Regions from separate parts of the Homo sapiens genome. Here regions 2 and 3 are each reported to be linked to region 1. The links are microRNA targets in miRTarBase. Many come from high-throughput screens and were not tested one by one. Region 1 holds a microRNA gene; each other region holds the end of a gene's coding sequence.

Evidence for each region. The annotated mature microRNA hsa-miR-6854-3p reads UGCGUUUCUCCUCUUGAGCAG and lies in region 1 at 3,648-3,668, shown strand. An mRNA with a match to its seed (bases 2 to 7 or 8) in the 3' UTR can be bound and repressed. Matches are read on the target gene's strand: a 7mer-m8 pairs with bases 2 to 8, a 7mer-A1 pairs with bases 2 to 7 and ends in A, and an 8mer does both.
Region 2: the mRNA of CIT is a reported target of hsa-miR-6854-3p. Seed matches in the 3' UTR shown: 7mer-m8 at 3,711-3,717.
Region 3: miRTarBase lists MOCOS as a target of hsa-miR-6854-3p. Seed matches in the 3' UTR shown: 7mer-A1 at 3,355-3,361.

Annotation. Positions count from the first base shown.
Region 1 is chr9:98,225,599-98,232,816 of GRCh38, reverse strand. MIR6854 (microRNA 6854) reads left to right here and starts at 3,600; the gene lies at 3,600-3,668. TBC1D2 (TBC1 domain family member 2) reads left to right here. Exons shown (of 13, transcript NM_001267571.2): 5 at 3,669-3,865.
Region 2 is chr12:119,682,768-119,689,985 of GRCh38, forward strand. CIT (citron rho-interacting serine/threonine kinase) reads right to left here. Exons shown (of 48, transcript NM_001206999.2): 48 at 3,024-5,488. The coding sequence ends at 5,465. LOC124903033 (a long non-coding RNA gene) reads right to left here and starts at 2,719. Exons shown (of 2, transcript XR_007063485.1): 1 at 2,555-2,719. RefSeq lists an enhancer at 4,983-5,853.
Region 3 is chr18:36,266,830-36,274,047 of GRCh38, forward strand. It overlaps MOCOS (molybdenum cofactor sulfurase), which reads left to right. Exons shown (of 15, transcript NM_017947.4): 14 at 1-24; 15 at 1,704-5,328. The coding sequence ends at 1,856. It also overlaps the pseudogene LOC791126. Among named protein-coding and RNA genes, the nearest start is that of FHOD3, 27 kb to the right of the region's middle.

The DNA of each region.
Region 1 (7,218 bases):
TGTACACATGTGATAAAATGGCATAGACCTATACACACATATTGTACCAACACCAGTTTCCTAGAGTTGATAGTGTACTATAGCTATGTAAGATGTCACCATCAGGGGAAGCTTGGTGAAGAGTACTTGGGACATGTCTGCACTATCTTTGCAACTTCCTGTGAGTCTATAATTTTTTCAGAGTAAAAAATTAAGAAGAGGCTGGGCATGGTGGCTCACGCTTGTAATCCCAGCACTTTGGGAGGCCAAGGCTGGAGGATTGCTTGAGCCCAGGAGTTCAAGACAAGCCTGGGCAACACAGGGAGACCCTGTCTTTACAAAAAAATAAAAAAATTAGCTGATCATGGTGCAAGCCTGTAGTCCCAGCTACTTGGGATGCTCAGCTGGGAGGATCACTTGAGCCAGGGAGGTCGAGGCTGCAGTGAGCCGTGATCATGCATGGGTGACAGAGTGAGACACTGTCAAAAAAAAAAACAGAAAAAGAGAAAGAAGAAAAGAAAAAGCACCCTTTGGAGCAGTCAGTGCCTGGCAGAGCCCTAGAGAGCACAACAAGCAGTCCAAGAGAAGGCCAGTGCTATATCGGATGAGTCACCATCATCATAACACTAGCAGTTACTTCATGCCAGTGCGGCAGTAAGCATTTTTTTTGGCAACAACTTTATTAAGATATATTCATGTACTATACAATTCACCCATTTAAAATGTGTAATTCAGTGGCTTTCTGTATATCCTCAGAATTATGCAGCCGTCACTATAATCAATTTTAGAACATTTTTATTACCCCAAAAAGAAACCTGCACCCTTAGTCATCAACCTTAATCCCCACTGCCCCATAACCCTAGGTGGCCACTCATCTTTCTTTCTCTATGGCTGTGCCTGTTCTCGACATCTGCTGTGAGTGGAATATACCAAGGAATATACCATGCTGTGACTGGCTTCTTTGACTTAGTAGAATCTTTTCAAGTTTCATCTGTGTGTACCAAGCACTTTACCTACCTTGACCTATTTAATTCTTACAGCAACTGGAACTGTATATATTGTATATATTGTTGTTATCCTCATTAGATTAATAAGGAAACTGAGGCATGGAAGGGTGGAGTGACTTGCTCACGGCCACAGAGTGAGTGACAGAACAAAATCTAATATATAAAGCAGATAAATCCACCATAAGTTGAAAATATCATAAGTTGAAAATGCATTTAATATACTTAACCTATTGAACAGTATAGTTTTGCCCAGTCTATCTTAACCATGCTTGGAACACATACATTTGGGCAAAATCATCTAACACAAAACCTATTTTCTAATAAAGTGTTGAATATCTCAACACTGTGTTAAACTGTGTTAAACGGTGTTTACACTGTGTTAAACAGTGGTTGTAATCAGATTTTTAAATGGAGGAAAAGATTATTTTTATGTCAATAAATCTTTTCTAATATGTACAAATGAGTTTCTTGAACACTAATAAAAAACACCTAAATTCTTTTTGAGACTCTAAATGAGCTACAAATTAAAAAAAAAAAAAAAAAAAAAAAAAGCAGAGTTGAGGCTGGAGTTGGAGTCTGGACTCCTCCTCTGCTCCTCTTACTCCACCTTCCTCTCCCAGTCAGCCCTTGAGGCACTCCTATGAAATCCAGGGCACTGATTGAACACCACTGTCTTAGGCCTTATTTTCTCTAATTATAAACTGGGCACTGTGAGGCCTGCCCTGCCTGTCCTCAGAGTTGGTGCACAGTCATGTATCAGAGGGCAGCAGTGCTACAAGGAGCTTCCCTGCTCCCCTATACCCCATTACAGGAAGGAGAAAGAGGTAGTACATATTTCTGAGCTCTGCAGGCTGCCTTGTACCCAGTGTAACCTGATTTCTCTTCGATCTGGAACAAGACTGTTCTGGTTTTGCACTCAGCAAGGCACTGTTGTTTTGTTCGTTTGTTTTGAGTCAGAGTCTCGCTCTGTTGCCCAGGCTAAAGCGCACTGGCATGATCTCGGCTCACTACAACCTCTGCCTCCCGGGTTCAAGTGATTTCTGGCTAATTTTTGTATTTTTAGTAGAAACGGGGTTTCACCATGTTGGCCGGGTGGTCTCGAACTCCTGACTTCAAGTGATCTACCCGCCTCAGCCTCCCAAAGTCCTAGGATTACAGGCGTGAGCCACCACGCCCGGCCGAGCAAGGTACTGTTTTTGCACTCAGTGTCTGGTTCCTGTCACCTACTGGAGTAACTCTTTATTTGTTCAAGACTGTTTGGCCAGCCCTTGGCCTGGTCTCATGCTAAGTCATTTGGCCTATCCCCAAAGCCCTGCGTGTCCCCTATCCTGGGATGCCATACCACATTCTTATTTTCAACACCTTTAACACTTTAGTCCCAAGAAATAGGTAATAGTTTACTAAAATGCATACTCCTGCAAATGAGTAATTTGGTTAGGAGATTTAGATAAGATCAATTTACGATCCTACAAAATATCTGAGAGTAGGCAGTAAATGTGGCTGTAAGCTCAGCAGCCAAGGCAAAGAGGGAAATGCAAGCAGCTAGATTATTTCCAGTGTCCATAAGACTAAAAACATATTTTCTTATAAGAAGCAAAGCTTTTCTTGGAAGTTCCTAGGGCTGAAGGGAATTTCTTCTGCTGGGGACTCATAATAGGCATGATGTATATATCCCATGTGAACAAGCTTCTCAAGGGCCCTTGGCTACATAGTCAGGCCCTTAAATGTCCCTTGATGCAGGCTGATGGCAGAGACCAGAAGCACAGCTGGGTCAGGGCAGGACAAGGCAACACAAGGGAATGATTCTCTGATGTTTGGTTTGATTTAAGAATAAAATTTTGATGACTTAAAAACAGTGGGTGGCAAACATTTTTTGTAAAGAGCAAGATAGTAACGATTCGAGGCTTTGTGGGCCATAGGGTTTCTGTTTTAAGCACTCAGTTCTGCCTTTGAGGAGTAAAAGCAGCAATAGACAGCACATAAACAAATGGGCATGGCCGTGTTCTAATAAAGCTTTATTTGTAAAAGCAGGCTGTGGGCTGGATTTGGCCTGTGAACCATAGGTTGTAACCCAGGAGATAAAAGGACTATGCATCCTTGAGACAATCAACTGTGGGGGAAATATATCTCTTAACTTAGCTTGGAATAAGAAGAATCAAGTTAAATGCTTGAGCTGCTCTCTGGAGCAAGAATGCAGAGTACAGACATTCATTTTGTGTTCCTATCATCAGACAGATCTGTGTGCTTTGAAAATCTCCTAGTACATAGAGGTGGGATCCTGAAATAAGGAACAGAACATCCTGCCAGGGCTTGTGCCTGAGGAGAAAGCCACTTGGCAAACACCAGCAGGGTGGCATGAGATAGACCAATGCAGGCTGGGTGGGATCTGAAGGAAGGAGACAGGCACAGTTTAGCAGATGGGCCAGCACAGTGCAATAACGTTTATGTAGGCCAGTGGTTCTCACAGTCTAACCCCTGGACAAGCTGTGTCAGCATCACCTAGGAACTTTTTAGAAGTGCATATTCTCAAGCCCTGCCCCAGACCTATTAAATCCAGAGCTCCGAAATTAGGGCCCAACCATCCGCATTTTAACAAGCCCTCCAGGTGCTTCTAAAGCAAGCTCAGGTTTGAGAACTGCTGATGTCATCAGTCATAACTTCTGCGTTTCTCCTCTTGAGCAGGGAGAGAGCCAGAGGATTCTCCAAAGCCTGCACCCAAGCCTTCTCTGACCATCAGTTTCGCTCAGAAAGCCAAGCGCCAGAACAACACCTTCCCATTCTTTTCTGAAGGAATCACACGGAACCGAACTGCCCAGGAGAAAGTGGCAGCCTTGGAGCAACAGGTTCTGATGCTCACCAAGGAGTTAAAGTCTCAGAAGGTGAGGTCTGGTCCCAGGGAGGCCCCAGGTTCCAGTGGACCCCTCCAGTTCCTGGAGCCTTTCGGATAAGCTAGATGGGACGCATTAGCCGTGCTGGGCACCAGCTACTCTCTGGTCTTTAAAGGCCAAACTGCAGAATGTTGAAATATGCTGTTGATTACTCAAGAACCTGATGTCACTCAAAGTAAGTCACAAAAGGGCACCAAGGGCAGGTATCTCTGGAGATCTACTCTAATAACTGTCTCTTGGACCCCTCCTGGAGGGCCATGCATGGTCTCACCCCCTACCCAGAAAATGACATTATTTAGAGGCAGGTGATCTGGATGCAGGGTCATGGGAGGGGCTGTCGATAGAACTGGGGGGAACTTTGACCTGGCAGCCGATATCTGGGCACAGATATCTGAATGACCGTCACAAGACTGTCACAGGAGAAAGCAAACAAGCAGCATGTGTGTGGCCCAGGGCTAAGCCAGGACCAACACAGAAACAGTGAAAGGAATATTTGGGCTTAATATGGTAAGAAGTTAATTACGAGAGTTACAAGAGCTATATAATAATTGTAGAAAACAGATCTCATACACACAGACATTAAAACTACTCCAAAATCCTACATCCCAGAGAGTAAATGGTATTAAAAGCCAGGGGCTACCTTATGAAGTAGTGAGGGTCCCAGGGCAAAGATGTGAGAGGGCTGCAGCTCCGGGCGGGAGCCCCTCTTTAGAGTGATAAAAGCGACTAAGTTAGGCAGTTGTTACATAAATCCCAACGGTGGGGCCTGGTAGGACCTGTGGTGGCAGTGGCGGGCTCCAGTGAGGGCCCAGACTCCTTTTCCTCTAGAGGAAGGCCTAAGCTTTTGTGTTTGAACTTTGGCTGCCCGGAGGCCCTTTCTGCTTTGTTTTCCAGCCCTGACTCCAGAGGACTTAGGCTGGGGAGGTGGGGCTTATGCCCTATTACCTTCTGAATATTTCTTATAACTTGTACATTTCTTCTTTTCTTTTCTGCCCTATTTTGGTGGGAAGAAATCTAGAAAAAATGCTCTCCCTATACCTAGTTTGGCCCCTCGTCTGCCTTTTCTGCCCCTAAGCAGTGACCACTGTCAGCAGATCTCAGGGGAACCGGCAGAGGCTTCATTCCTGGCATGTCAGAAGTTACTTTTTTTTTTTTTTTTTTGAGACAGAGTCTCATTCTGTCACCCAGGCTGGAGTGCAGTGGTGCAGTCTTGGCTCACTGCAACCTCTGCCTCCCGGGTTCAAGCGATTCTCCTGCCTCAGCCTCCCAAGTAGCTGGGATTACAAGCACCTGCCACCATGCCCAGCTAATTTTTTTTTGTTTTTTGGTTTTTGTTTTTAGTATTTTTATTAGAGACTAGGTTTCACCATGTTGGCAAGGCTGGTTTCGAACTCCTGACCTCAAGTGATCTGCCCACCTCAGCCTCCCAAAGTGCTGGGATTACAGGCGTGAGCCACCGTGCCTGGCCAGGAGTTACATTTAGTGAAGCAACTGGTGATTAGACATTAGAGTTCTCAAAGGAGGGGGCTCATTTATTCATACGTTCTTAACTCATGTGTTTATTCACCAAATTTTTATTAAGGGCCTGTTATGTGCATGCAGTGTTCCAGGTGCTGGGAAAGAACAATGAGCAAAAGACACAGGCTCTGCCCTTACAGCTTGCATTTCATGGCAGAGACAGACATTAAACAAAGCAACACCCAAATGTGTAGTTATAACACGTGAGGTCCCCTCTGCTGCTGCTTAGCAGCCCAGCTGTCTTTTCCTCCTGTCATCATGGTGCTCCAGTTCTGAGGCTGCTGGACGCTCCTGAGAGCTGAGAGGGCATGAAACAGAGCCATAGCAGCTACTTGATCCCTGGACTAGTAGAGCTTAAATCCGAAACCCAAACCTGGAAAGAAAAAGAAATCCTGAATATACGGGCAGCCTCTCTTGACACAGCCTTTCTTTCTAAGACATTACAAATTGTCAGATGAAGTAGAAAGGCCCCAGGAAACCTAGATTTCATGAAAGTTTGCCCCTGATTGCTCTGCATCTCTGGAGGACTCATCATTCTTCAATAAATAAAGGCAAGATTCTTGGAGATTAATAAGGGTTGACCAGGCTATTGACAACTCCCATATATTCAGAGGGAAATTGTCAGGAGGAAGTTGTTGATGCATTGAAGAATCTGGATTTTTTTTCTACCAGGTAACCTTCCACCAAACCTCGACTTTGTGTCCTGGGACAGAGGGTCAAAAGGAGAATGAGTTGTGATTTATTTAGTTTATCCAATTATTGTGCAATAGGAGTGGATTTGTTTACTCTCCAACCCATTCCACAAATGAACTTCAGTCTTCAGGGTGATTCAAAGAACCAGCCTTTAAATAAGACAGCACAGGCTCAAATTCTGGCCCTAAGCAAGTTTCTTAACCTATCTAAGCCTCAGTTTCCTCTTCTGTAAATGGAGTTGCAGCCGTGTTTACTGGAGAGACCTGTGCCCAGATTCATAAAGCCCAGTACCTGGCACCCAGCAGCTGCCCAACAGATGCAGGCTCTGGTTGTTCTGGCGATTACTGCAGCCCTCCTTACCCTCCATGTCAATCTCTTCCTGCCCTACAAGCAGTGAGGTGCCCTGCTGAGGGGCTCAGAGACGAGGCGGGAAGTGAGAGCCCATCAGTGCCTTCAGGAAATGTGCCGTGGGGCCATAGCAGTGATCAGGGAGCTTAGGTCTTCATTCCACATTAGGAAGGGAGGAATGGCAGCCCCGTAACTCTAGGGTTTCACCTGTAGCCCAGATACTGAAACCAAAGAGGTGAGACAGAAAAAGCCAGCACAACTTCTGGGTGCCCAGTGGTGCCCCCAGGCACTCAGAATGCCGCTAGGAGAGCCGCTGTCCATCTGAGACCCTCATTAGAGTCCCATTCATCAGCTGGGAAGATGGGCACCTGGAATCCCAGGAGCTACCCCTGCGAGGTACCTTCCTGTGTTTCTTTAGTGGGAAGGCACCTCCTGTCTACCTCAAACTTCAGGAGGACATGGGAATTTGGGGTCTTATCCTAGCTGATCTGGCCATTGCCAGTGGCTTTCGTGACTCTTTAGGAATTTCTATCTCAAACACTGCGAGATGCTCTTGAGAGCACATTGCAGACAAATCCCTGCCCTTGGGCACCTCACCATCTAGTGGGGAAGAGAAGATGTGAGCATGGGAACTGCTGGTATGAAGCGCGGCCCCAGGACTGTGCTGAGCCTTCCCATGTGTTATCTCTGTCCTTACAATAGTTTTCATCCCCTTACTCTGAAAGGGAAACTGAGGTTCTCAGAGTGTCTGCATGCTCAGGGTCTCCCAGGGGCTAAGCCAGCAT
Region 2 (7,218 bases), not on the chromosome of region 1:
AAAGACTGAGAGAAAAAACCTGGAACATCATGATACGATCTGTGGCTGAGGTCAGAGACTGAACGAGCCAGTCTAGGAAAGAACAAAATTTCATTTTAATTCAGTTCCTTTTGTATGAGCACAGTTTCACTTTCAAGCATTTACTTCCCATATCTGATCCTCCTCTGCTATTGTGTCACCTTCAAAATTCAAATGTCCCCAATGTGATAGTATTAAGAGGTAGGGCCTTTAAGAAGAGATTAGGTCATGAGAGCCCCTCCTCTCATGAATGAAATTGAGGTTCTTATCAAAGAGGCTTCAGGCAGCATTCAGCTCATGTGCCCTGGCACCTTCTGCCATGTGAGGACACACAGCTTTTCTCCCCTGCAGAGGACCCAAGCACAAGGCGCCATCTGGGAAGCAGAGAGTAGCCCTCACTAGACAAGCAAACCTGCCCATGCCTTAATCTTGGACTTCCCAGCCTCCAGAACTGTGAGAGAATGAATTTTTGTTCTTTATAAATTACCCATTCTCAGGTATTTTGTTAAAGCAGCACTAAATGGGCTAAGACATCCACCAATGTTTACAAATGGTTTGAATGAATTGATGAAGACCCAAGACATGGACCACTCATCAAATCATAAAGTTTCTGAGGAATAAAAGCTTCAGCACTCATCTTGGCCAGCAAATTAGTGGAGAAACAAACTAGAGCCTTCTGCCCTGGTATGCCAACTATAATTGTCTTCAGGAGAAAACATGGAAGTTGTAGATACGTATACATTTCTTCTAAAACCCCAGTCATCCCTATTAATTGTAAAAACATCCACAGGATCCTCCTAAGAGTCATCGTCACTATAGTGAGTCAGACATTTGGAGAAGATCCCAAAAGCTGGAGCAGCAGCCGGAGCCCCGTCTCTGGGACCCCAGCCACTGGCTCTAGAACGAGCCACCAGGCTCTGCCCTCAGGGTGGGCTCCCACAACTACATTGTCGTCTTGTCTTTCATACAACTAAAGAGCCTTTCCCCAGATGAGGATGCCAGCTCTTACTGCTACCTCCCCCTAAAAGAATTCACCCATCCCATCTGAAATACTCAGTGGCCAGTGAGAACAGGCCAAGATGTGTATACCCTTGGTCGATTTTTTGTTTCCTTTTTTGTGGCTCTCTGAAAGACAGCCTGACTTATGCAGAGTAATAAAGTCATTTTCAAGGTTCTTTCATCTACCTCTAACAATCTCTCTAGGGCAAATAGAGTTCCGTTCATCATTAACAGACTCAAGGGAAAACAAAGTGATCAACACTGGACTCTATTTCCACTACCCCCACCCTCCCCAGCTTCAGGAAACAGCTTCAGCATTTGAGTGGGCAAATAAGAAACTATTTTTCTCATTTAACACTGTAGGCCTAGAGCCACGGTCTACATGCTTTAGACATCATTAGCAGTATTTAAATTGCCAAGGAAGACATGGGACTAAAACTAGAACAGACCACGGTTTCTCAACCTTGGCACTATTGAGGCTTTGGGCCAGATAATGCTTTACAGTGGGGGGCTGTCCTTTGCCTTGTAGGATGTTGAGCAGCATCTCTGACCTCCACCCATTGGATACCAGTAGTACTCCCGAGTTGTGACAACCAAAAATGTCTCCAGACATTGTCAAATGTCCTCTGGGAGGAGGGAAGCAAAATCTCCCCATGGCTTAGAACCAGTGGAACAAGCCAGTGTAACCACTGTATTCTGAGAATGGAATCTGAGCTGGCCCCCACGAATGCTTTCTATAGCAAATCACATTCAAGAGGTCCAATTCTGAAGACAGTCCTATTAAGCAAATTCTCTTTTGGCCTAACCCTCCAAATCCTAAAGTTCCATGGTTATGGAATTTGCTATGCAATCAACCTCTTTAGTCCGGTGACAATTAAGTTGTAAGCGCAGAAAACATGACATCTAATTTTGTGCTTATGAAACAGGAGTGGCCAGCATGAAGAGTTAGGCCTCATTTTACGGTGTGGCTGTGGAATTGGTTGGTTGTTTCTTTCGGGCTATTCCTTAGGGTTCAAACACTCTTCCTTGGCACTTCCTTTTGAAACCAAACTATGTTGACTTAGCTTTGGAAGTTTTCTGTGACCTCCCACAATCCTCTAGACAATCACTGAAATGCTTGGTTGATATTTAACAGATGTTTTTCTAATGCTACAAGGAAAGAAAGGTTCACATTTCACCACTTCATCTTCTGAATTATTTTCATTCTTACAACTACGACCTTGTGGCAGATTTTCATGCCCAACAGTAACATCGAAAAGAACAGAATTGCATCTGTGGTTCCCATCACAAGCAACAAAGACAGATACGACTCTGCGAGTCCAATTTTGACCGTGGTCAGACGACTTCATTAGAAAATAAAAATTCAAAGACTACAACCCACAGGAACCATGAAAACAAAAACATCACCATTTGCCAAAACCCGTTTGTCTGGATCGAGCAAGTTTATACTAACAAACTAAAGAATGAGAAAAAATTTATCTTGCAGACTGTAAAAGTTCCTCTACTTAAAAATGGAAGTATTTTCATTTTTAATTACCTTTGATTTGAATTCTTCTCTACAAAGAAATCTACATTATTAAATTGTAGTTGGCCTTTTAATAGATGAAAGATATCTTGAGCTGACCTGTTCCTGGTTAGCTGATTATAGAACTGGGTAATCCATTCTTCAGTAATCCTTTCCAAATGTCCTGTGTGACTGCTTGAAGAGCTTTCCAGCTCTGCAGTCCTATAAAATGACCTTAATAGCCAGTTCATGGTTCACTGGAAGTATTGACCAAATTTCCACAGTCAAACTCTTGGCAGAGAATGTCACCAATCGCTTAATTCCAGGATAGCAGTGTGCCCTAACCACCACGTGGCTTCCTCTATCCCACTCCAGAGGAAAACCCTCCCCACAACGTAAAGAAGGTCCCATCCATGATAATACACCTACACTGACACGCTGGTGATAGTTTTTCTTTCACAGTCTCTCAAAAAAAGAAGAGGTCATTGCACTAAAGCACACATTAGTTTAGATCATTGCTTTATTTCACTAATTGTTCAACAACAAAGTTCATTCCTCTCAAGGTGGATCTTGAATCATTCCTTGTGTTCTCTTCCTCGTTCTGAATAAAAAAGGTAATGAAGAAAAAGCCTGTACTTTTGGAGACCTAGAATCTTGATTGATGCTAATAAGCTTTTGACAGCAATTTCGTGTTACGGTATATCCTGCTGGCATCTTGGTGGTCACACGGAGCTCCCCACCCTCCAGTGAAGATGGCTGTCCACAACTACCACCATTGAAACCAAAAGTAAGTGTTGAAAAATGCACCTTTTACAATAAAAAAGTAGAAACCAATTCAATTTCCTCTTTTTTTTTTTACGAATATAAAGTTTCTTGTAAATATGTACAGTCTTTTGAGCTAGTTCTATATAGCAGAAAGCAGTTCACAGATGAGACACACAATATACATTTTCAGGGCTCAAGAAGCCCATTTCTCATGGAGATCCTAAATGAAATGCCAAGACTGAAAGACCCATTTTCAGTGACCTTTCCAAATACTGTGGACCAAGAGACAAAACTTCAGCAAACATTCAATCAAATCTGCCCTGGGGACGGGAGGGGAGGGAGTACGACCCCACAGACTCCAAGCAACACATAAAACGCCACAGCAGGACATTTGCCAAAGGAGCTACCACATGGAGGTTTGTAGGCGTTTCAAACAAGAAAGCACTTAGGTTAAGACACGAGCAGGAAGGAGCTGGGATGCAGGCCAGGTTGCAATCTGGAAAGGGATCTGAACTGTGGACACAGTTGAAAACACGGTCATGTTCACCTGCTGCGGTGGAAACGGGTCTACCTTTGAGCCTACCTAGGAGGTGCCTGGGTTGTTGAGGCGGGCCTAAGAGTCGTGGAGGACCCAAAGCAACAGATGCCTTGTGGGAGATTAAAGGCAGAAATAAGGCCGCGAGTTAGCTTGCCAACTGCAAAGCCTCTAGGTTGGTTCTGTACCAGTTGCCAGGAATTTCGTACTCTAATAGGAGGGTCCGCAGACCCAGTGGGAGCCGCACTGCACCTAAGGACTTCCCAACCCTGGCGGAGCTGGAAGAGTTGAGCTGCGGCTGCTTTCTCAAACTTCCTGGTCTTAGGTCTAGCCCTAGGGAAAGGCTCATTTGGAAAGTCACAGTTTCGTGGGGTAGAACCGCGCTGGATTGGGTGTGAACAGAGTCATCCTCTGCAGGCAGGGAAGTGTGAAGTTTGGAGGGGACACTGAGTGGGAGGTGGTGGTTTGCTGAAATCCTTCTCTGGTCGTAAGGCTTGAGCGTTTTGTTTTTTGTTTGTTCAGTGCTACAGACTGCAGCTTGTGGTGGCCAGTTAGTCGGCAAGTCGTCAGAGGGTCTCGATTTGGCAGGAGCTATGGGATGGTATTAATACATTGGCAGAGCAACCCAAGGGGGCAGCACATGCAGTGAACTGCCATGCAGAACTCCCGACGGGCCTCTTCCCCATCCCAGAGTGGGGAACAACACGCCGTCACAGACAAGGAAGTGGGTGCCCCCGTCCCCTCCCCGACCCCGAGACCCAGGAGTGCTGGGCTCCGAGCAAGTCTATTGCATGCTTTCCTGGCCAAAGCTATATGGAAAGCGGGAACAGCAGGCTGGGGAGATGACGCTGGGGGGTGGGGAAGGAAAGCGTCTCGAGGTCCCTTGGCCCCAAGTCACTGCCTCCGAGCTGAGGCCCCGATGACCTCCATACATTCTCAGCTGGTGGGAGGGGAAGTCGTCAAGGCCATAAAAGGCAATGAAAACAGTAAACATTTGGCTACGATGTCACCCTGGGGAAAGCAGGGCCATCTATGAGAATGAACAGGAACAAGGATGAACCTACTTGGCTGCGGGAGGTTGGCCAACTGACCGGGACTGTTCTACACTATGCCTCGGTGGCAAAGACCTGATGATGTGGTCGAGCTAAAAATGACTACAACAGGAAATACGTCGCTATTCAAATCTATTAAGAATTCTGTTGTCTTAAAAAAAAAAAAAAAAAAAGGAAAGAAACAAAGAGAAAAAAAAAAGAAAAACCAACCAATCCTAGGATCTTAAAGTAGCTAATTAGGATTCTAACCATGTTGTAGTTAGCATCCCGGTTGGTTTCCTTTGATGAACTAACTGGTACAGGCTAGAGCTAGGTACAAAAGTTTGTGAATGCTTTGAAAGAGTAACAAAGTGCAAAGAGATGACTGCAGGGAGGTGCCCAGGGCAGGCACCGGGCGCTGACAGCTCCGAAGAGCCTCAGCCACCTGCCCCTCCTGGAGACAGGGGTGTCCGTGCCGAGGTGGGTCTGGGCCCCGCTGAGCCAGAGGGTGGCTGAGCACGTGGGCGCTTGGGTCCCCATCAGCAGAGTTCCATAGTGTGTTTGGTGTTTTCCTGCAGATCAAGATGAGGAGTTGGTTTTTCTGGCTGAGATTTATACTGAAGACTGGTCCCAGACCTAGGAGTGAAATAAGGAGGAGTGTTAGCCATCCGAGGCCAGAAGTTGCTGTGCTCACCTTGCATGATGCAAATGGGAATCTGCAGCCCCTGGGCTATCCCCTTCAGCAGCTAGCAGTGAGTGCTTGGCAGGGCAGCACCCGCTCCAGAGCCTGGGGAAGCCAGGGAGTGAAACTCACTGGAAAATCCCAAAGCCGTGTGTGTACCTGCGATGCTGTAAGCATGTGATACACACACATGCACATACACAGTTTCATCGGTCAATTGGGAGGGATAAGAAGCCATATGGATGGTGTTTCCTTCTTTCTTTACCAGCAGGTGAACTGCAGGTGGCATCAGAAGGAGAATGCCACCCAGAAAATCAGCCCCAAATGGCAGAAAGGTGGCTCCTTGACCTGCTTAGCCTGCTAAGGAGGCACCAAGCACTTGAGCCATGCCCTGCCTGGGGGAGCCCCTGGTCTTCCACACCCATCCCTCTCCTCGATCGCAAACCTAAAATTACACAGATCATTCATGCACATGATTTAAACATTTCCAAAAGTTCAAAGTTCTTCTGGAAGGCAACCACTGTGAACACTTTCTGTGTAGCCTTCCAGAAAAACAATTTATATATACACATGTGTGGGCTGAGCGTGGTGACTCACGCCTGTAATCCCAGCATTTTGGGAGGCCAAGGTGGGAGGATTGCTTGAGCCCAGGAGTTCAAGACCAGCCTGGGCAACATAGCGACATTATGTCTCTAAAAAAAATAAAAAGGGCCGGGGGTGGGGGTGGGAATCAGACAGATGGTGGCTTGAGCCTGTAGTCGCAGCTATTCAGGAGGCTGAGGCTGGAGGATCACTTGAGCCCAGAAGTTCAAGGCCGTGGTGAGCTATGATCACACCACTGCACTCCAGCCTGGGCAACATAGTAAGACCCTGTCTCTAAAACAAAACAAAACAAACAAACAAACAAACAAACAAAAAGTGGGGGAAAAAGTTAGCCAGACATGGTAGCTACAGCCCATATTCCCAGCTACTCAGGAGGCTGAAGTGAGAGGATCACTTGAGCCCAGGAGTTTGAGGCTGCCGTGAGCTATAATCACGCCACTGCACTCCAGCCTGGGGTAACAGAGCAAGACGCTGTCTCTCAAAAGAAAAAAAAAAAAAGAAAAGCATATGTGTGTATGTGTGTGAATCTATATCTATGTTTGAAAAAAGCATGCAACATTTCATATAGGATGCTATCATTTGGGTTTCAAAAGGAGAGCACACATATATATTTGCTGGTACGCACAGAATATCTCTAGAAACTGCTACCACTTGCCTCTGGAGAAGGGAAAACATTTTTTGGTAGCTATTATATTTTGAGTTACATGCATACATATTTTCCTTTTCAATTACACACACGTTATCCATTTGCTTAGGAAGCTCTTTTTTTTTTTTTTTTTTTTTTTTTTTTTAAGACAGAGTCTCGCTCTGTCACCCAGGCTGGAGTGCAGTGGCGCGATCTCGGCTCACTGCAAGCTCCGCCCTCCGGGTTCACGCCATTCTCCCGCCTCAGCCTCCCAAGTAGCTGGGACTACAGGCACCAGCCACCACACCCGGCTAATTTTTTGTATTTTTTTCGTAGAGACGGGGTTTCACCACATTAGCCAGGATGGTCTCGATTTCCTGACCTCGTGATCCACCCGCCTCGGCCTCCCAAAGTGCTGGGATTGCAGGCGTGAGCCACCACGCCCGGCCAGGAAGC
Region 3 (7,218 bases), not on the chromosome of region 1:
CTTTCTGAGAGTCGTGAAACAAAGGTAAGCGTGATTGCAAAATATGACACCTGGTTTCCAATCCTGGTGTTATCAATACCAGAACTATGTTCATAATAGCACAGAGTTATTTTTTTAAATGGGGGATTTGCTGCCCATCCAAAGCTGTTGGGCTGCCATTAACCTATCCTTGTTTGTAGTTTCATTTTATTTTTCCTTTCCATCCAAGTTCTCACTTTTTTTTGTTTTACTTCATGTATTTTTATGCTTTCCAATCTTGTTGAAGAGATATGGAGTACAAAAAAAACAAGTAATTCTGTTGTCTTGATCATTATTTTCTTTAACACAGAGAGCTCATGAAGAGTAAAGTGCCTTAATGTGAATAGAGTAGCTGCATAGAAAGAGTCAGTACATTTCATTAAACTGGAAATACATTCATTAAGCCTGGAAATTCATTTTCTTGAGGGTTAAAACAACAAAGTGTTGTTATGAATTCCAGATTATAGAAACTGAACTTCCAATGTGTTGATTCTTTAGAAAGATTTATTTTCAGGCTTATACTTTCTGTTAGGACTTTTTGTTTTCAAAGAATTCCAGGAAGCCAAGAAAAGCAGTCAGGCTACATAGAACAATTCTTGAAAATTAACAGAAATAATGCAAACACTGTATCTACTTCCAATAATAAGCTGGCAAGTTAATTCATGGTAAAATGTGCTACATTGTTTCCTGTGTTTCTTCAAAGCCAGGGTTTTGTTTCACAGTATAGACATTTGATTTATGTAAGTTTTCTTACCAATATGGGATAGAAATGGCCTGCAGAGTAGTGCATTTGACTGTTACAGCAGCATGTCTGTCAATGCAGGCTGTGTTGTCTGGGGTGTGGGGACCTTGAGCCTGCACCATGCAGGTTGCCAGGAGAAGAAAGAAGAAGGCACAAATACAATACTAAGGTCCATGAAAATAGTGTTTCTCAGCATCACTGCAATTTTCATGTGCATGATGAACCTTTTATTTTTAAATTTTGGAATAATTTTAGATTTACGGAACAGTTGCAGTGAGAGTGCAGAGGCTGCACTTTTCACCCACATTTGTACAAATCATGAGGAATTGGCCCAATCCCCTAGCCTGGGGCCTGGAACATGAGGGTGTCCAACAGATGTTATCACAAGAACTAACAGATCGGAGAGCATGTCAAGTCCTCCAAAGGGTCCTGAGTGGTTCACTTGCATTGATGGTTAACATTGAGCAGACTTACCTACTCTTCATTTTGGACCTTCCATCCTTATTCAGGAGAATTTGACAAAATTAACTTGCATCATTCTTTCTCAAGGAAAATGCAGAGTTCTGCCACTGTCTTCCCCAAAAGGCTTTTACATCAGGCAGCAAACAGGAAATGGGCCTGATGGTGGTCACAAGCTGAGAGTAGGAAGAAAGTCCTTCTGCAGGAAGTTCAGGGCATGTGGGACAGAGATGTGCCCAGCAAGAAAGAGGTGTGGGGTGACCACAGGGAAAGGATGCCTTAGAATGAGAATCTTTGGGGTCTAAAGTTAGGATTCTCTTAATGTTCCAGTGCATTCTACTGTGTAACAGATAGGAGATATCAAGTCTCAGTATATGTCTTTAAAAATCTGACTTGATTTTAGTTAAACATTAATATTTACAAAGTTATTTTAATTGCTAAAATAATCTAGCCTTTTTTGTTGTTGTTGCTGTTTTGTTCACAGGTGAACTTTGGCATGTACCTGATGCATGCATCATTGGATTTATCCTCCCCATGTTTCCTGTCTGTAGGATCTCAGGTGCTCCCTGTGTTGAAAGAGAATGTGGAAGGTCATGATTTACCTGCATCTGAGAAACACCAGGATGTTACCTCCTAAAAAAAATTTTTAGCATAAAGTTTCTCTTTTACAGTGATCTCTATTATTGTTAAGATCTGCAACTTGGTTCAGTAGAACTTGATGTTTTGAATAAGGAGAGCTCTTTTTCTTTAGAGGCAGGGAATGCTCTCACCTGCTTCCTTCTGCCTTTGACTTCTCACCCTGCAAATTTGCACTGGCTGTGCTCAGGAGAGCACTTCTGAGGCCTCAGGAACGAATGCTGCACCCACATCCAGTGAGGCTCCTGTAGGTATTTGAAGTATAATCACTTGTAATCAGATGAAATTTTTAATGAAGTTCACTGGGAAGATTGAACTTACTGCGGGTCCCTATTTTGCCATTTTCTCACATTGTTACTTTGTTTTTAGAGAGCATCTTTGGATCTCTCCAACCCGTTTGTAGTGAGGAAGGGAGTCTATGCCCAGTGATCCTGGGTATGAGAAGGTGCTCCTCTCCTCCCATGTACATGATGGTGTGGGTTTATGCTCAGGGGCCCAGAGGGTAACTTGTGACCACATTCCTTGAGGGGAGTTTCTACCAGAATATTTATATTCTGAGCAAAGGCACAGGCCAGCAATTCCTTTCCTGTTGCTTCCCATCCCTGGCCTCCGTCCTCATCCCCCACTGAGTTGATGCACTGAGGATGGCTCACGAGCCTGAAGTTACACTCAGTGATGGCTGTGCTTATGCAGGTTGTCATCCTCCCCTCCACAAGCCCACAGGATGGTGTTGGTCCATCACCCGAGAGCCTCCAAATCCTATCGAGGGAGGAACTTTGGCATTCAGGAATCCTGTCTGTATCATCTTTGACCACTGCTCCTGCAGCCTCCAGATGAAAATGTCCAGTGAGGAAATCTCATTCTCTAATGAAGTTACCCATCCCGCTGAGTTTCTAAGAAGTTTCTCCCTGTGCGGAGCTTGTGTGTGCCTTATCTGCTTCTGCATGACTTCCAGCCTGGGGTCTTACCCTGTCCTCTGGAGCAATGCAGAGTGAGTACATCCACTCCACATTCATTCTGCTGGCGTCCTTCTGAAGCCTGCTGTCCATGTGTGAACCCAGTCCCTTCATCATCTTCCCCCTGGATGGTTGTATTTTTCCAGTCACTTCTCCCCCAAATGTCTGCCTGCTGCAGCCCACTGCATCTTTTGAAAGCCTGTGCCACCCCATCTCTCCTGCTGCTCAGTTGGAGAGCAGGCTCCAGGCTCAGGCTTCCCTAATGTATCTGTTCAGAGCCTGTGGGATTCAGGGTCAGTTTGTTTCATTATCACATTTGTAGGACTTTGTGTTGTTCCCAGCACTAGGTGAGATTTGAAAGATGAGGTGTGCTCTGTTCTCAAGGATTGTTGAGATGGAGCCTAATGATTGCACACTCACGTGCTGTGAAGAGTTAAGGGTAAAAAGTACAACTCTGACTCTGGTTCCTGAGATCACCGAAAGAAGAGGCAAATGAAGTTAGGTGGGGTGGGGTGGGGTTTATTGTTTTGAACTGTTTATTAAAAACGCAACCTCTTCAAAGACTCAGCACTGCCACATCATATGAGTGGACTTGTCCTCATCAGCTAACTGATAGGAGAACAATGCCCTAAAGTAATGGATTTATCCACCTACTCAGGCCAGTTTCATGCAGGAGGGAACTTTCCAGATGGCACATTGCCCCATTTCCAAGACCTTCCGCTGACAAATGCATCATATTAATTATGATGGAAAACAAGTAAGAAGGCATGCTCTACAAAAATTAGGTCACTTGCCCAGGTGCGGTGGCTCACACCTGTAATTCCAGCACTTTGGGAGGCTGACGTGGGCAGATCATGAGGTCAGGAGATCGAGACCATCCTGGCTAACACGGTGAAACCCCGTCTCTACTAAAATACAAAAAATTAGCTGGGCATGGTGGCATGCACCTGTAGTCCCAGCTACTTGGGAGGCTGAGGCAGGGGAATCGCTTGAACCCGGGAGGCGGAGGTTGCAGTGAGCCGAGATCATGCCACTGCACACCGGCCTGGTGACAGAGCAAGACTCCATCTCAAAAAAAAAAAAAAAAAAATTAGGTCACTTTTGTCATCAAGAATATGTTTTTCTTATCCACGTCTATGTCACCTTTTGCAGTAGATACTTTCATGACTGATTTCAGGCTTTTTGTTTTTTTGAGACAGGGTCTCACTCTGTCACCCAGGCTGGAGTGCAGTGGCATGATCACAGATCATTGCAGCCTTGACCTCTTGGGCTCAAGCGATTCCCCTGCCTCAGCCTCCCAAGTAGCTGGGACTACAGGCACACATCACCACATCCAGCTAATTTTTTTTTTCTTTTTTTTCTTTTTGGTAGAGATGGCATCTCACTTTGTTGCCCAGGCTAGTTTTGAATTCCTGGGCTCAAGCCATCCTCCCGCCACAGCCTCCCAAAGTTCTGGGATTACAAGTGTGAGCCACTGTGCCCAGCTTTTGATTTCAGACATTTTAATGCAGATCCTCTCCTTTACAGCACTATTATTTGGTTATCTACTTATAATTACTGATTTAACATTGATCTGTTTTCACTAGACTGTAAGCTCCATGAGGACAAGTCCTGTGCCAGTATATCTCTAGTGTCAGCAGACAATACTCAAAATTTGTTGACAGACTATTTAAAGCTGCCCCTATTTTTATCATTAATTGATTGAATATTAATTAAATATATTTTATTAATTTAAAATGAATTTTAAATGCATTTTTTCTTTAGTGTCTACCTTCAATATTTCTTGTATGAAGTTTCAGCTAAAAATGTACTTTGTGTATCTGTAGAGTGGCTTCATATTCAGAGTTTATGGACATTTATGATTTTATGTCCCCTCCTTGGTTCTTATCTCCTGGAGTTCAGCCTTATGTGCTTCTCAAAGTGTATAACAAAATCAAAGACAATGTCATGTCCCTTGAATTTAATTCTAACACCAAACCTTGGTGTTAGAGTCACAAAAAGTCCTTTTTTAAAAAAACTTGGTGAGAACAGACAATAACTTGTCTTTCTGGGCATTCGCGTCATGGTCCTTTTAGCCAGAAGAGAGGTTTTCTTTTGCATAGTTTGGTGAGCATCAAGAATCCTTTAAGGAGGGTGGCGGTGCTGACTTCTCCCCATTGAGAGTCAGCCTCATCCCCTCCTCAGCCTTGTGGATGGAGAAGAACAGGCAGTGATATACATTTTCTGCTGTTGAAAGATGTCCGCTTATCCTTCTCTTTCAGTGAAAAGTTGCTTTTTTATTCAATATGTACTGAACAGGTTCTAGAGTTTCAGAAACAAAAGAAACAGAACCAACATTTATAGATCTCACTATAGAGGCATCACTAATTGGGGAAAGACAGACTAGGTAATAGTCAGATGTGATATAGTATGTTTAAGCTATAGGATGGCAGGTGCATGAGTGTTGGTTGTATTATTCTTTATTTTTTTGTATGACTTATGATATTCATGATAATTAAAACGTTTTGGAACAATTCATCTCAATTTTCTTTGCTTTGTTTAAAAAGCAAACATTGGCCAGGTGTGGTGGCTCATGCCTGTAATCCCAGCACTTTGGGAGGCCAAGGTGGGTGGATCACTTGAGGTCAGGAGTTCGAGACCAGCCTTGCCAACATGGCGAAACCCCATCTCTACTAAAAATATAAAAATTAGCCAGGCATGGTCGTGTGCACTAGTAATCCCAGCTACTCGGGAGGCTGAGGCAGGAGAATTGCTTGATCCCTGGGAGGCGGAGGTTGAAGTCAGCGGAAATCCTGCCACTGCACAGCGGCCTGGGTGACAGAGTGAGACTCCGTCTCAAAAAAATAAAAATTTTTAAAAAATGAAATAAAAATTAAAAGCAAACATTGAGCAAGAAAAGGTGCCAGCCTGCTGAGGTACCATCTCTGTCATTGTAACTACGCCAAAGGCAGATGGATGAGAGAAGGGACCTGCCCTTAGGCTGAAAGATTTGTTATGTTGGTAGCTGGTGGTGTTGTCTGGAACTTATGAATTGTATTTTCCTTGTAGCTTTTTCAGAAAGCAAGCTATTTTTTTCTCTTATTACAGCTACTAAATTTTGAGTTATTCTCACCTTTATTCATTTTTTAAAATGTGGGCCTGCAAAAGTATATCTAGTACTATAACAATATCTTTTTTCCTCTAAATTTTTATTTTTTAATTTTTGTGGGTACATAGTAGGTTTATATATTTATTGGGAGTATAACAACCCCTTAATAGGGAGAAACAACATTTGAGGGGAGGGAAAATATGTATACAATAAACAGAGTGGGGTCACATGATAACATTCTAGGCATTTTGTCAGAGGTGGACCTAAAATTTGAATCTGAGCATGCTGGTATCTTCAAAAGGGGGAAACATGGGAGGCCGAGGTGGGCGGATCACGAGGTCAGGAGATCGAGATCATCCTGGCTAACACGGTGAAACCCCGTCTCTACTAAAAAATACAAAAAATTAGCCGGGCATGGTGGCGGGGGCCTGTAGTCCCAGCTACTCGGGAGGCTGAGGCAGGAGAATGGCGTGAACCTGGGAGGCGGAGCTTGCAGTGAGCGGAGATCGCGCCACTGCACTCCGGCCTGGGCGACAGAGTGAGACTCCATCTCAAAAACAAAAACAAAAACAAAAACAAAACAAAACAAAAAAAAAAAAAACGGGGGAGGAGGGGCGGGGCGGTAAACATACAGTCAACAAATTCACAATTTCCAGAAGATAAAAACAAACATGTTTGTTCAGGGCAAATGGTGCTCAGGCTTGAGAGAAATTTGTCTTCATAAAGACAATACTATGAAACTTCCATTCCTGGGGCGGCCTTAGCACCAGCCTGGTGGGACCGGACCAGCCAGCCAGCCTCCCCAGGCAGCTCGCTGAGAATGGGAGGGCCAGCCCAGTGGCGCCATGATCCTCCTACCCTGTAACTCCCACAGTAACTAGCTGCTCTACACCGGCTTCAGCCAAGACCACGGATGCCTTGCTTGTGGGATGGAAAACGGATTCTGAGTCTATAACACCAATCCATTAAAATAAAAAGAGAAACAAATTTCTAGGAGGAAGAGTTGGTCATAATGAAATGTTATTTTGCTGCAACTATTTAGCTTTAGTTGTTGGTGGAAAAAAGCCAAAATACCTTCCCAACAAAGTGATGATCTGAGATGACTGAAAAAGAAGACTGTTAATGAAATAGAATTTGCTACAGAAGTCAAGGCAGTCAAATTGCAGCGAGATAGAATTGTGGTTGTTTTGGACTCCATGATTAAGGTGTTTGCACTCACACAGAACCCCCATCAGTTGTACATCTTTGAAACCTCCTAAAACCCTAAAGGCCTCTGTCCTCTGTCCCAATAGCAACAACTCTCTTCTGGCCTTGCCAGG